Linked DNA regions of Homo sapiens. The protein of the gene in region 1 interacts with the protein of each later gene in a pairwise test. Each region holds a gene or a part of one and is shown in the gene's direction. Other genes may lie near its edges. The genes, in order: NLRP12 and PYDC2.

Evidence for each region.
Region 2: the proteins of NLRP12 (region 1) and PYDC2 interact in a two-hybrid assay, tested with the Homo sapiens proteins (one study listed by IntAct).

The regions. Positions count from the first base shown.
Region 1 is NC_000019.10:53,821,255-53,829,342, reverse strand, and holds the start of NLRP12 (NACHT, LRR and PYD domains-containing protein 12), read left to right. Parts: upstream 1-5,028; 5' UTR 5,029-5,168; coding exon 5,169-5,457; intron 5,458-5,465; exon of another isoform or gene 5,466-5,562; intron 5,563-8,088. UniProt on the Homo sapiens protein: Plays an essential role as an potent mitigator of inflammation. Primarily expressed in dendritic cells and macrophages, inhibits both canonical and non-canonical NF-kappa-B and ERK activation pathways.
Region 2 is NC_000003.12:191,457,124-191,462,125, forward strand, and holds PYDC2 (pyrin domain-containing protein 2), read left to right. Parts: upstream 1-4,039; coding exon 4,040-4,333; downstream 4,334-5,002. UniProt on the Homo sapiens protein: May play a role in innate immunity by disrupting the interaction between PYCARD and NLRP3, thereby regulating the NLRP3 inflammasome. May also inhibit NF-kappa-B signaling distally by affecting the nuclear accumulation of RELA.

The DNA.
Region 1 (8,088 bases):
GAGGTCAGGAGTTTGAGACCAGCCTGACCAACACAGTGAAACCCTGTCTCTACTAAAAATACAAAAATTAGCCGGGTGTAGTGGCACGCGCCTGTGGTCCCAGCTACTTGGAGGCTGAGGCACGAGAATCGCTTGAACCCGAGAAGAGGAGATTGCAGTGAGCCAAGATGGCGCCATTGCACTCCAGCCTGGGCAGAAAGAGCGAAACTGTCTCAGAAAAAGCAAAAAAACAAAACAAAAAAACGCAGCAAATCCATGTTCACAACGTGCTAGCGAGCAGCATAGGTTTTACTGATGATGGGTTTGGTTGGGGTAGAAGACAGTTTTCATCGTACACCATATAGTAAAGCAATTTAAATTCCTATTACTCATCTCCATAAACCCTCCAAATGTTCTTCCCAGGCACCTGACACCTCCTATTTCCTTTCCTTCTGCCTTTCCCCACGTGGCTTCTAAAATGCCTTTTTATCCTGAATGATTTAGTTTTACCTGCAAACAAGCAAACACCATACTGCAAAATTTCTCCAGTTAACAGATTTCATACTCAAGTGACTTCTCAAAGTATTCCCTCAAAGGAAACAGGTCTCTTCCGGAATGGCAAAAGGGAAATTCTGCTGATAGAAAAACAAGCATTTCTCTGTGCCTTTCTAGTACTAACACAGAGAAATGTTTCTCAGCAGAATCACTAGGGGAGCTTTATATTATAAAAACATGTATTTAGCCAGGCGTGGTGGTTCACACTTGTAATCCCAGCACTTTGGGAGGCTGAGGTGGGAGGATCACTTGAGCTCAGGTGTTCCAGACCAGCTTGGGCAACATAGTGAGACCTCATCTCTATTCAAAAAATTAATATAAGAAAAAAAGGAAAAAGAAACATATGTTTGATGGCCCCTGCCCCACCAAGATCCTGATTCAGGAAGTCTAGAGAGGGACCAATTTCATATACATATTTATATATTTATAATTCTTATTGTAATGTATATAAAATATTTCATCTATATATAATTTTTTTTTTTGAGACGGAGTCTCACTCTGTGGCCCAGGCTGGAGTGCAGTGGTGTGATCTCGGCTTACTGCAACCTCCGCCTCCCAGGTTCAGGAGATTGTCCTGCCACAGCCTCCCGAGTAGCTGGGATTACAGGCACACGCCACCATGCCTGGATAATTTTTGTATTTTTATTTATTTTTTTATTTTTAATTTGTTGTTGTTGTTGAGACAGAGTCTCACTCAGTCACCCAGGCTGGAGTGCAGTGGCGTGATCTCGGCTCACTGCAACCTCCACCTCCAAGGTTCAAGTGATTCTCGTGCCTCAGCCCCCCGAGTAGCTGGAATTACAGGTGCGCGATAGCACATCCGGCTAATTTTTGTATTTTTAGTAGAGACGGGGTTTCGCCATGTTGGCCGGGCTGGTCTCAAACTCCTGACCTCAAGTGATCTGCCCACCTTGGCCTCCGAAAGTGCTGGGACTACAGGCGTGAGCCACCACACCCAGCCTTCTATATATAATTTTTATAAATGTCCCTGATGATAATAATTTCTCTTCTAGTTGAAAACCAACAGGGCAAATTAGCACCTGCTTTGAATGGGTTTATCCTTGTGATGCTAGGCAAGTGAGGCCCCAAAACAGGGCTTACCCCGGGATAGTTCTTGGCTTCACACAGGAAAGAATTCAAGGGAGTGGCAAGCAGGTGGTGGTGACAACTTCTATTATTTATTTATTTATTTATTTATTTATTTGAGATGGTGTCTCTGTTACCCAGCCTGGAATGCAGTGATGTGATCTCGGCTCACTGCAACCTCCACTCCTGGGTTCAAGTGATTCTTCTGCCTCAGCCTCCCAAGTAGCTGGGATTACAGGTGCCCACCACCATACCCAGGTTATTTTTGTATTTTTAGTAGAGATGGGGTTTCACCATGTTGGCCAGGCTGGTCTTGAACTCCTGACCTCAAATGATCCACCCGCCTCAGCCTCCCAAAATGCTGGGATTACAGGCGTGAGCCACTGCACCCAGCAAAAAAATTTTTTAAAAAAGGAAAATTGGGCTGGGTGCGGTGTCTCATGCCTGTAATCCCAGCACTTTGGGAGGCCGAGGTGGGAGGATCGCTTGAGCTCAGGAGTTGAAGGCCATCCTGGGCAACATGGTGAAACCCCATCTACTAAAAACAAAAAAAAAAAAAGAAAAAAAAAGGAAAATGGCATTCCTTGTCTTTAGATTCATTCTTGTGTTTCCAGAAATGGCACTAAGCCCAGAAGCAGCTATAGAAGTTGCCAATTCTCTTCTTTCCCCATGAGAAAGTTCTATCTTGAAAGTGGAAGCATGAAGTAGACAGATGTGGATTCAGCTTCCCCCAAGCCTCGCTTCCGAATTCCTAGAAATTAGTTTTACCACCACCTGCAGCAGTGGCGTGGAAGGAGCCTGCGTCGTGAGCCACTTGAGGAAGCTCAGATGGGGTCTGTAGGTAGTTCAGGTTTGCCAAACCTTTCTCCTCCCCTCTAATGATCACTGCCATCCCCACACTCCCAGGATGCACCCACCGCCTGCCCTTACTCAGGCATTATCTCCATCTCCTGAAACATGAAGGCTTCAGCTTCTCGCTCTCCCAATCCAGGCCTCCTCTGTTTGGTCTGCCTTCCACAAGGGCCTTGAGGAATCTTCCTTAACCCAGACCTGACTCCATCCCTCCCCTGCTCAAAACTGCTGCATGCCATGCAACAGAATATTAGTCCTGGAAGGGACTGGATGTGGGAGAATGTCTCATAAAAAGCTGTGAAGGTTTTTTTTGTTTTGTTTTGAGACGGAGTCTTACTCTGTCACCCAGGCTGGAGTGCAATGGCGGGATCTTGGCTCATTGCAACCTCCGCCTCCTGAGTTCAAGTGATTTTCCTGCCCCAGCCTCCTGAGTAGCTGGGACTACAGGCACCCGCCACCAAACCCCAGCTAATTTTTTTTTTCTTTTTTTGAGACAGAGTCTCGCTCTGTTGCCCAGGCTGGAGTGCAGTGGCGCAGTCTCGGCTCACTGCAACCTCTGCTTCCCGGGTTCAAGTGATTCTCCTGCCTCAGCCTCCCAAGTAGCTGGGATTACAGGTGCGTGCCACCAAGCCCGGCTAATTTTTGTATTTTTAGTAGAGACGGGGTTTCACCATGTTGGCCAGGCTGGTCTCAAACTCCTGACCTCAGGTGATCTGCCCGCCTCAGTCTCCCAAAGTGCTGGGATTACAGGTGTGAGCCACTGCGCCTGGCTATGAAGGCTTTTGTGTGTGTGTGTGTGTGTGTGTGTGTGTGTGTGTGTGTGTGTGTGTGTCTGAGGGGTCTTAATTGATTAGGAGCATGAAACAAAGTTGGCATGATGCAGGAGACAGAGGGAATTATAAACTTGCTCTTCCATCAGAATTCATAAATTCTGCTAACACATATTTTGTAGAGATGGGGCCTCACTGTGTTGACCAGTCTGGTGTGAAACTCCTGGCCTCAGGTGATCTACCTGCCTTGGCCTCCCCAAGTGCTAGGATTACAGGCATGAGCCATTGCACCCAGTCACATCTTCCTCTTACACTAACCCTCCTGTCTTCTTCTTATAAAGACTCTTGTGGCTGGGTGCGGTGGCTCACGCCTGTAATCCCAGCACTTTGGGAGGCTGAGGCAGGTGGATCACGAAGTCAGGAGATCAAGACCATCCTGGCTAACATGGTGAAACCCCATCTCTACTAAAAATACAAAAAAAAGAGAATTAGCCAGGCGTGTTGGCGGGCACCTGTAGTCCCAGCTATACGGAAGGCTGAGGCAGGAGAATGGTGTGAACCTGGGAGGCGGAGCTTGCAGTGATCCGAGTTCGTGCCACTGCACTCCAGCCTGGGCAACAGAGCAAGACTCTGTCTCAAAAAAAAGACTCTTGTGATTCCATGGGTCCTGCCCAGATAACCAGGATAATGTCCCCATCTGAAGTGCCTTCATTTGGTCACATATGCTAAGTCTCTTTTGCTATGTAGGGTGAAATGTCACAGGTTCTGGCCATTAGGACATGAATATCTTTGGGGACCATCATCCTGCCTACCGCAAAGTCCCTCTCATGCCACTCTTGTGACTGAGAGAACAGAAAAAAAATAGCAGACCTACGTGAGGTCCTTAATAATTCTCCCTGAGGCTGGGCTCAGTGGCTCATGCCTGTAATCCCAGCACTTTGGAAGGCTGAGGTGGGCGGATCGTTTGAGCTCAGGAGTTCAAGGCCAGCCTGGGCAACATAAGAAGACCTTGTCTCTACCAAAACTACAAAAACTTAGCTGGGCATGGTGGCGCATGTCTGTGGTCCCAGCTACTTGAGAGGCTGAGGTGGGAGAATCGCTGGAACCTGGGAGGCGGAGGTTGCAGTGAGCTGAGATCACGCCAGTGAACTCTAGCCTGGGTGGCAGAGTGAGACTCTGACTCAAAGAAAAAAAAAAAAAAAAAAGCCAGGGACGGTGGCTCACACCTGTAATCCTAGCACTTTGGAAGGCTGAGGCGGGTGGATCACCTGAGGTCAGGAGTTCGAGACCAGCCTGACCAACATGGTGAAACCCTGTCTCTTCTAAAACCACAAAAATTAGCTGGGTGTGGTGTCCGGCGCCTGTAATCCCAGCTACTCAAGGGAAGCTGAGGTGGGAGAATCGCTTGAACCTGGGAGGCAGAGGTTGCGGTGAGCCAAGATCGCAGAGCCAGGGCCACAGAGTAAGACTCTGTCTCAAAAAAAAAAAAATTCTCCCTGGAAGAGGCGCAGTCGCAGTTTTGATAATACACTCTACCACACACACTAGTGAAATGAGGAAAACAAGAGGAAAGCGGAAAGAGAGTGACTGTTTTGTCAAGAGATCCAGGAAGAGACAGCAGAAGTGAAAATCTTTTTCATCAGCCAAGTGGCTCCTCGGATTTCTTAATCTCCCCCCGAACTTCCTCTTCTCCACCCAGAACAGCCATTGGTGAGTGGGGCAGGGCAGGAGGGAACTGAAGAGTGAGAAAGCATTATTTCAGCAAAAGGTCTTTCCTCCCTTGCTCTCTCCTCCAACCACTGGCTCAGCCTCTCCGCCCGCTGCCTGTGAATGATGCAATGGAAGGTGTGCTGGGGTCGCCCTGTGTCCCGTGCATAGGAGCATCTCAGCCTCCAGGTCCTCTCCTTTGGGGCTCACGGCACCCCCATGCTACGAACCGCAGGCAGGGACGGCCTCTGTCGCCTGTCCACCTACTTGGAAGAACTCGAGGCTGTGGAACTGAAGAAGTTCAAGTTATACCTGGGGACCGCGACAGAGCTGGGAGAAGGCAAGATCCCCTGGGGAAGCATGGAGAAGGCCGGTCCCCTGGAAATGGCCCAGCTGCTCATCACCCACTTCGGGCCAGAGGAGGCCTGGAGGTTGGCTCTCAGCACCTTTGAGCGGATAAACAGGAAGGACCTGTGGGAGAGAGGACAGAGAGAGGACCTGGTGAGGGGTAAGGAGGTGGCGGGACAGGCAAGGCTAGAATGCCAGCCGGGTCCAGTGACTCATACCTGTAATCTCAGCACTTTGGGAGGCTGAAGAGGGCAGATCACTTGAGGTGAGGAGTTCAAGACCAGTCTGGACAACATAGTGAGGCTCTGTCTCTACCAAAAATAAAAAAAATTAGCCAGGTGTGGTGGTATACGTCTGTGATCCCAGCTTCTCAGGAGGCTGAGGTGGGAGGATCACTTGAGACCAGAAGGTCGAGGCTGCGGTGAGCTATGATCCTGCCACTGCACCCCAGCCTAGGTGACAGAACGAGACCTTGCCTCAAATATTTAAAATATATTTTTTTAAAATATATATATTTAAAATATATGTTTTAAATATATATTTTAAATAAATATATTTTAAAATATATATTTTAAATATATATTTAAAATATATATTTAAAACATATATTTTAAATATATATATTTAAAACATATATTTTAAATATATATTTAAAATATGTATATAATTATATTATTAAATATATATTAAATATGGTATATATTATATATAAATATAGTATATATTTATTATATAAATATACTATATTATATAAATATGGTATATTATATAAATATATATAAATAATAAATATTATATATTAAATATTTAATACATATATTATTAAAATAAATATTTAAAATACATATATATAAAATCCCTGAGCCTGGGAGATCTGGAATTTATATATATATACACACACGTATATATATGTGTATATATGTGTATATATATGTGTGTGTATATGTGTGTGTGTATATATATTTTAAGAGATGAGGTAGCCAGGTGCAGTGGCTCACACCTATAATCCCAGCACTTTGGGAGGCCAAGGCGGGTGGGTCACCTGAGGTCAGGAATTCGAGATCAGTCTGGCCAACATAGCAAAACCCTGTCTCTACTAAAAATACAAAAATTAGCCAGGCGTGGTGGCACACGCTTATAGTCCCAGCTACATGGGAGGCTGAGGCAGGAGAATCGCTTGAACCTGAGAGGTGGAGATTGCAGTGAGTTGAGATTGCACCACTGTACTCCAGGCTGGGTAACAGAGTGAAACCCCATCTCAAAAATAAATTAAGAAAGAGATGAGGTATCCTTTTTTTTTTTTTTTTTTAAGACTGAGTCTCGCTCTGTTGCCCAGGCTGGAGTGCAGTGGCGCAATCTCCGCTCACTGCAACCTCCGTCTCCCAGGTTCAAGCAATTTTCTGCCTCAGCATCCCGAGTAGCTGAGATTACAGGTACCTGCCACCATGCCTGGCTAATTTTTTGTATTTGTATTTTTTGTAGAGACGGGGTTTCACTATCTTGGCCAGGCTGGTCTTGAACTTCTGACCTCGTGATCCACCCACCTCAGCCTCCCAAAGTGCTGGGATTACGGGCATAAGCCACTGTGCCCGGCCAAGATGAGGTGTCCTTATGTTGCCCGGGCTGGTCTTGAACTCCTGGGCTCAAGCGAGCTTCCACCTTAGCCTCCCAAAGTGCTGGGATTACAGGCATGAATGACCACTGCCTGGCCACCAATTCCCTTTTCTTTCATACTAATCCCTGAGCCTGGGAGATCTGGAATTCTAATTTACGTACACACACATCTATATCTATATAAAAATTTCAACTTTTAGATTCAAGGGGTACATGTGCAGGTTTGTTACATGGGTATATTGAGTGATGCTGAGATTCAGAGTAAGATTGATCCTATCATGCAGGTACTTGAACATAGTAATAGTACCCAATGGTGAGATTTCTCCCCGCCACGAGTCCCCAGTGTCTCTTCTTCCCATCTTTCTGTCCATGAGAACCCAATGTTTAGCTTCCACTTATAAGTGAGAACATGCAGTCTTTGGTTTTCTATTCCTGCATTAGTTTGCTTTGGATAATGGCCTCCAGCTGCGTCCATGTTACTGCAAAGAACATGATTTTGTTCTTTTTTATGACTGTGTACAGAATTCTAATTTCATCCCTTTGGTCTTTGTTCATGCTGTGTTCTGCCTGGAATATTCTCCATCTTCTTTGCCTGGAAAAGTATTACTTACTGAAACCTTGAAGCCACTACCTTCTCTAAAGTAAAGTATTTACTCCTCTTCCCCCACTCCTTCTGATTCCTCGCTCCCACCACTCTGGCTGGCTCAGAAACCCCACTTCTGTGCCTCCTTAGCACTCTTGGATTTCTTTTTGTTGTTGTTGTTGAAACAGAGTCTTGCTCTGTCGCCCAGGCTGGAGTGCAGTGGCGCAATCTCAGCTCACTGCAAGCTCTACCTCCTGGGTTCACGCCATTCTCCTGCCTCAGCCTCCCGAGTAGCTGGGACTGCAGGTGCCCGCCACCATGCCTGGCTAATTTTTTGTATTTTTAATAGAGACGGGGTTTCCCTATGTTAGCCAGGATGGTCTCGATCTCCTGACCTCATGATCCAGCCGTCTCGGCCTCCCAAAGTGCTGTGATTACAGGTGTGAGCCACCGTGCCCAGCCAACATGATTTCTTTTATTATATCTTCTATCTCATAAAATAATCACAATGAGCTGGGTGCGGTGGCTCACGCCTGTAATCCCAGCACTTTGGGAGATTGAGGTGGATGGATCACCTGAGGTCAGGAGTTCGAG
Region 2 (5,002 bases), on another chromosome or scaffold:
CGACACCATCCCCATTATCTCTGGAGCAATAGGCTATTTTTGCAAAGTGACTGACAATATAAATCAGATTATAGTGCTCGTGGTACCATCACGGTGGACAGATGCACAGAGAGTATTTCTAAAGAAATACTCATAGAAGAGAGAAAAACATTAAAGTGGTTGCAAGAAGAAAGCATTGCAGAATGTGAACATTTGTGGTCTACTTTTGTGAATTTTTAATAAAGGGTTTCTGGCATGTAGAACTGCTGTGTCTTCATTAGAATAATGTGGAGGCTGCTACCAAGTAGGACACATATTCCAGGCGAACCAGGGTACGACTGGGAAGAAAGGACTCTGAGTATATTAGTTTTAAGCATGATGCTCCCTTCCCATAATACACAGTAAAAGCCAAATACAGGATTTCCTAACGTGAAAAGCAGATATGCAGAAGTGGGAAGAGACCTGATTTTGAATTGGAACATGTGAATCTTTATCCCAATTCTGCCAAGAACTTGCCATGTATCCTGAGGTAAATCCTCTTTCCTAGCTTGACCTTTGTTTCTCAATTCAAAGATTCGCTTCAAAGATTTGAACTTGGCCAGGCGTGGTGGCTCATGCCTGTAATCCCAGGACTTTGGGAGGCTGAGATGGGTGGACCACCTGAGGTCAGGAGTTTGAGACCAGCCTGATCAACATGGTTAAACCCCATCTCTACTAAAAATACAAAAAATTATCCAGGTGTGGTGGCAGGTGCCTGTAATCCCAGCTACTTGGGAGGCCGAGGCAGGAGAATCGCTTGAATCTGGGAGGCGAAGTTTGCAGTGAGCTGAGATCGTGCCACTGCGCTCTAGCCTGGGCAACAGAGTGAGACTTGGTCGCCCACCAAAAAAGGTTTGAACTTGATGACACCAAGAGCTGCTTCCTGCCCAATGACTTTATCTTAGTAAAAATTCTATGTTTTGATTCTTTTTGAAATATGAATTATTTAATGCAAGTAATACATTTGTGTGGTTCAAAATGTATAACTATCAAACGAGCACTGTGAACACCTCCCTTCCATTCCCATCTGTGTCTACCATGTTCTGTACTAATTTCTACTTTTACTGATTTTTAAAATATCTTTCCAGAGTTTCCTTATGAAAATTCAAACAAATATAATTTATATCCCACCTCCCATTTCTCTCACAGGAGTTACATGTGCCTTGTTTTCTTTTGTTTTTTTCTTGAGATGGAGTTTTGCTCTTGTTGCCCAGGCTGGAGTGCAATGGTGTGATCCTGGCTCACCGCAACCTCCATCTCCCAGGTTCAAGCGATACTCCTGCCTCAGCCTCCCGATTAGCTGGGATTACAGGCATGCACCACCACGCCCAGCTAATTTTGTATTTTTAGTAGAGATGGGGTTTCTCCACGTTGGTCAGGCTGGTCTCGAACTCCCAACCTCAGGTGATCTGCCTGCCTCGGCCTCCCAAAGTGCTGGGATTATAGGTGTAAGCCACCGCACCCAGCCAGCATGTGCCTTTTTTTAAACTGAATATATCATGGACATTTTTATGTATCACTATGTAAGCCACTCCTCATCCTGTATTTAGCCTCTTGCTAAATACAACAGATACAACAGATCCTCAAATAACATTTTTTTCAACATCATTTTGTGTAACATTGATGAGGAAAAAAAAATTCCAAACAGGGGCCACTGTCTATATGGACTTTGCATGTTAGCATGTTCTACCCATGTCTGCATGGATTTTCTCTGTACTCTACTTTCCTCCCACATCCCAAAGATGTTAGGTTAATTGGTGTGTCTAAATGCTCGCAGTCTGCGTGAGTGTACCCTGTGATAGGATGGCGTCCTGTTCAAGATTGGTTTCCACCTGGCACCCTGAGCTGCCGCATAACCTCAGGCCACTCACAACCCTGAATTGGAATAAGTGGATAAAAAATCATCTTACTCATTTTTATTAATCTGTTTAAAATGCATGTAGGGCTCACATTTATTTCTATGTTTAATATTAGAAGTGTTTTGGTTTTTATTTAGAACTTCGGTGATGTTTTTGTGACCAGCATGCCATAGGAATTTAACTCTTGCTTGTATGAGTTAGCCTATGATAAAATTGTTTTTGTTATACATCATTTCATTCAAAGTTGCAGTTTCCAAGAATCTATTGAGGACATTAAGTGAGTATTTTGTTCTTACAAATAATGCTATGCAAGCAGACACACCTGTAAGACAAATACTAGAGGTGGAAAAGCCAGGTCAAAGAGCAAATGCTCTTGTCGTTTATATTTTTCAGGACTGCCTTCTCTAGGGTTCATATAAATTTATACTCAATCTGAAACATGCACTCCAAAAAATACAAGCAAATTGAATACAGTGACCTATAAAAAGAATTATACACAATGACCAAGTGGGATTTATCCCAGGACGGCAAGGTTGGTTTGAACATATGAAAATCAATTAATATAATTCATCATATCAGTAGAATAAAAACAAAAATTACATGATTATCTCAATAAACACAGAAAAAGCACTGGACAAAACCCAACTTCCTTTCATGATAAAAATACTCCCAACTGGAAAATAGAAGGGAGCTTCCTCAATCTGATAAAAGTTATCTATGAAAACTCATAGCCAAAATTATATTTAATGGAAAAATGATTTTTGTCCTAAAATCAGGACCATCTCAATGCTATCTGCTCTTAGCATGACCATACAACATTACATTAGTGGTGCTAGCCCTAGCAACTAGACAAGATAAGAAAGGCAACTGGATTGGAATGGAAGTGAAAGTGTCTGTATTAGCAGATAACATAATCTTGTATATAGGAAATCCTAAAAAATTCACTCGAAACCTGTTAGAACTATTAAATGAGTTCATCCAGGTTTCAGGATACAAGATCATACATAAAAATCAGTTTTTCTTCTACACACTTGTAATGAACAGTCCAAAACTGAAATTAAAACAATTCCTTTTAGAATCATATCAAAAAGAATAAAATACCTAGAAATAAATTTTAACAAAGAAGTAAAACTTATGCTCTGAAAATTACAAGACATTATTGAGAGAAATTAAAGAGCTAAATAAGTGGAAAGCATCTCGTGTTTATAGATTGGAAGGCTTAATTTACATTGTTAAGATGGCACTACTCCCCAAACTGATCTACAGATTCAATACAATCCCTGTCAGAACCTCAGCTTACTTTATGTAGAAATGGGCAAACTAGTTAGAAAATTCAAGTAGTATCGCATAGACCCAGTACAGCCAAGATGATATTGAAAAATAAGAGCAAACAAAGACAATTCACCTTTCCTTATTTCATGACTTAGTAATTTATTTAGTATTTCCTCATTTCATGACTTAGCATCTTAATGGTAATTAAGATAATGTGGTACTGGCATAAGGATAGGCACATTGCTCAATAAAACAGAACTGAGAGTCCAAAAATAAGCCCGTACATCTGTGGTCAACTGACTTTCAACAAGGGTTTCAAGACCGTACAATGGGGAAAGAATAGACTTTTCAACAAATGATGCTTAGGCAAGTAGATTTCTACATGCAGAAGAATAAAGTTGGACCTCTATTTCATGCCACATACAAAAATTAACTCAAAATATATCAAATACCCAAATGTAAGAGTTAAAGCTGTAATATTCTTATAGTAAATGATAGGGGTACATCTTTATGACCTGAGACTTGGCAAAAGATTCTTAGACATGACATCAAAAGCATAAAAAATAAGAAAAAAATAGATAAATTTGATTTCATCAAAATGAAAAACATTTGTACCTTAAAGGACACCATCATTAAACTGATAAGACAACTCACAGAATGGGAGCAAAAATTTGCGTATCGCGTATCTAATGAAGGACCTGTCCCTAGACTATATAAAGAACTCTTACAACTCAGCAATAAAAAGACAATAACGCAATTTTATAATGAGCAAAAATCTGAACTGATATTTCTTCTAAAAAGATATAAAAATATATACTTATTAGTATATGAAAAAATGTGAGAACCAGAGCATAGGGCCAGGCGTTGGGAGAGCTCCCACATAGGACAAGATGGCATCTTCTGCAGAGCTGGACTTCAACCTGCAGGCTCTTCTGGAGCAGCTCAGCCAGGATGAGTTGAGCAAGTTCAAGTCTCTGATCAGAACAATCTCCCTGGGAAAGGAGCTACAGACCGTCCCCCAGACAGAGGTAGACAAGGCTAATGGGAAGCAACTGGTAGAAATCTTCACCAGCCACTCCTGCAGCTACTGGGCAGGGATGGCAGCCATCCAGGTCTTTGAAAAGATGAATCAAACGCATCTGTCTGGGAGAGCTGATGAACACTGTGTGATGCCCCCACCTTAACCCCTCAGGGATAGTGAGTTGATGGCTGAGCTAGATGTTGCTTTAGCCTTGGTTCTGCCTCCATTTTACATGCACATGTTGCTTAACCTTGTTATATATGAAATATCTATATCACCAGTATTTTGAGATAAATAAAGGTGAAATAATTCACAAACATTAAAAGAAAAGATGCCTGACAACTTTAGTATTCAGGGAAATGCAAATCAAAACTATGATGAGATACCACTTCATATCCACTAGGCTGGCTAGAATAGAAAGATAATAACAAGTATTGGCACAGATGTGGAGAAACTAGAATCCTCATATACTGCTTATGGAAATGTGAAATTGTGCAGCCACTTTGGAAAACAGGATGGCAATTTCTCAAATGATAAACAGAGTTCTCATATGATCTAATATTATATTTATAAGTACATGATCAAGAGAAATAAAAACATAAACACAAATGTTTATAGTGTCATTGTATACAATAGCCAAAAGGTGGAAACAACCTAATGTCTGTGAATGGACAAATGAATAAACAAATTGTGGCATATGCAGCTAATGAAATATTATTCGACAAAAATGAAGTATTGATCACATGCTTAAACATGAATGAACATTGAAAACACTATGCTAAATGAAAGAAGCCTGTCATAAAAGACAAAATATTATATGGTCACATCACAT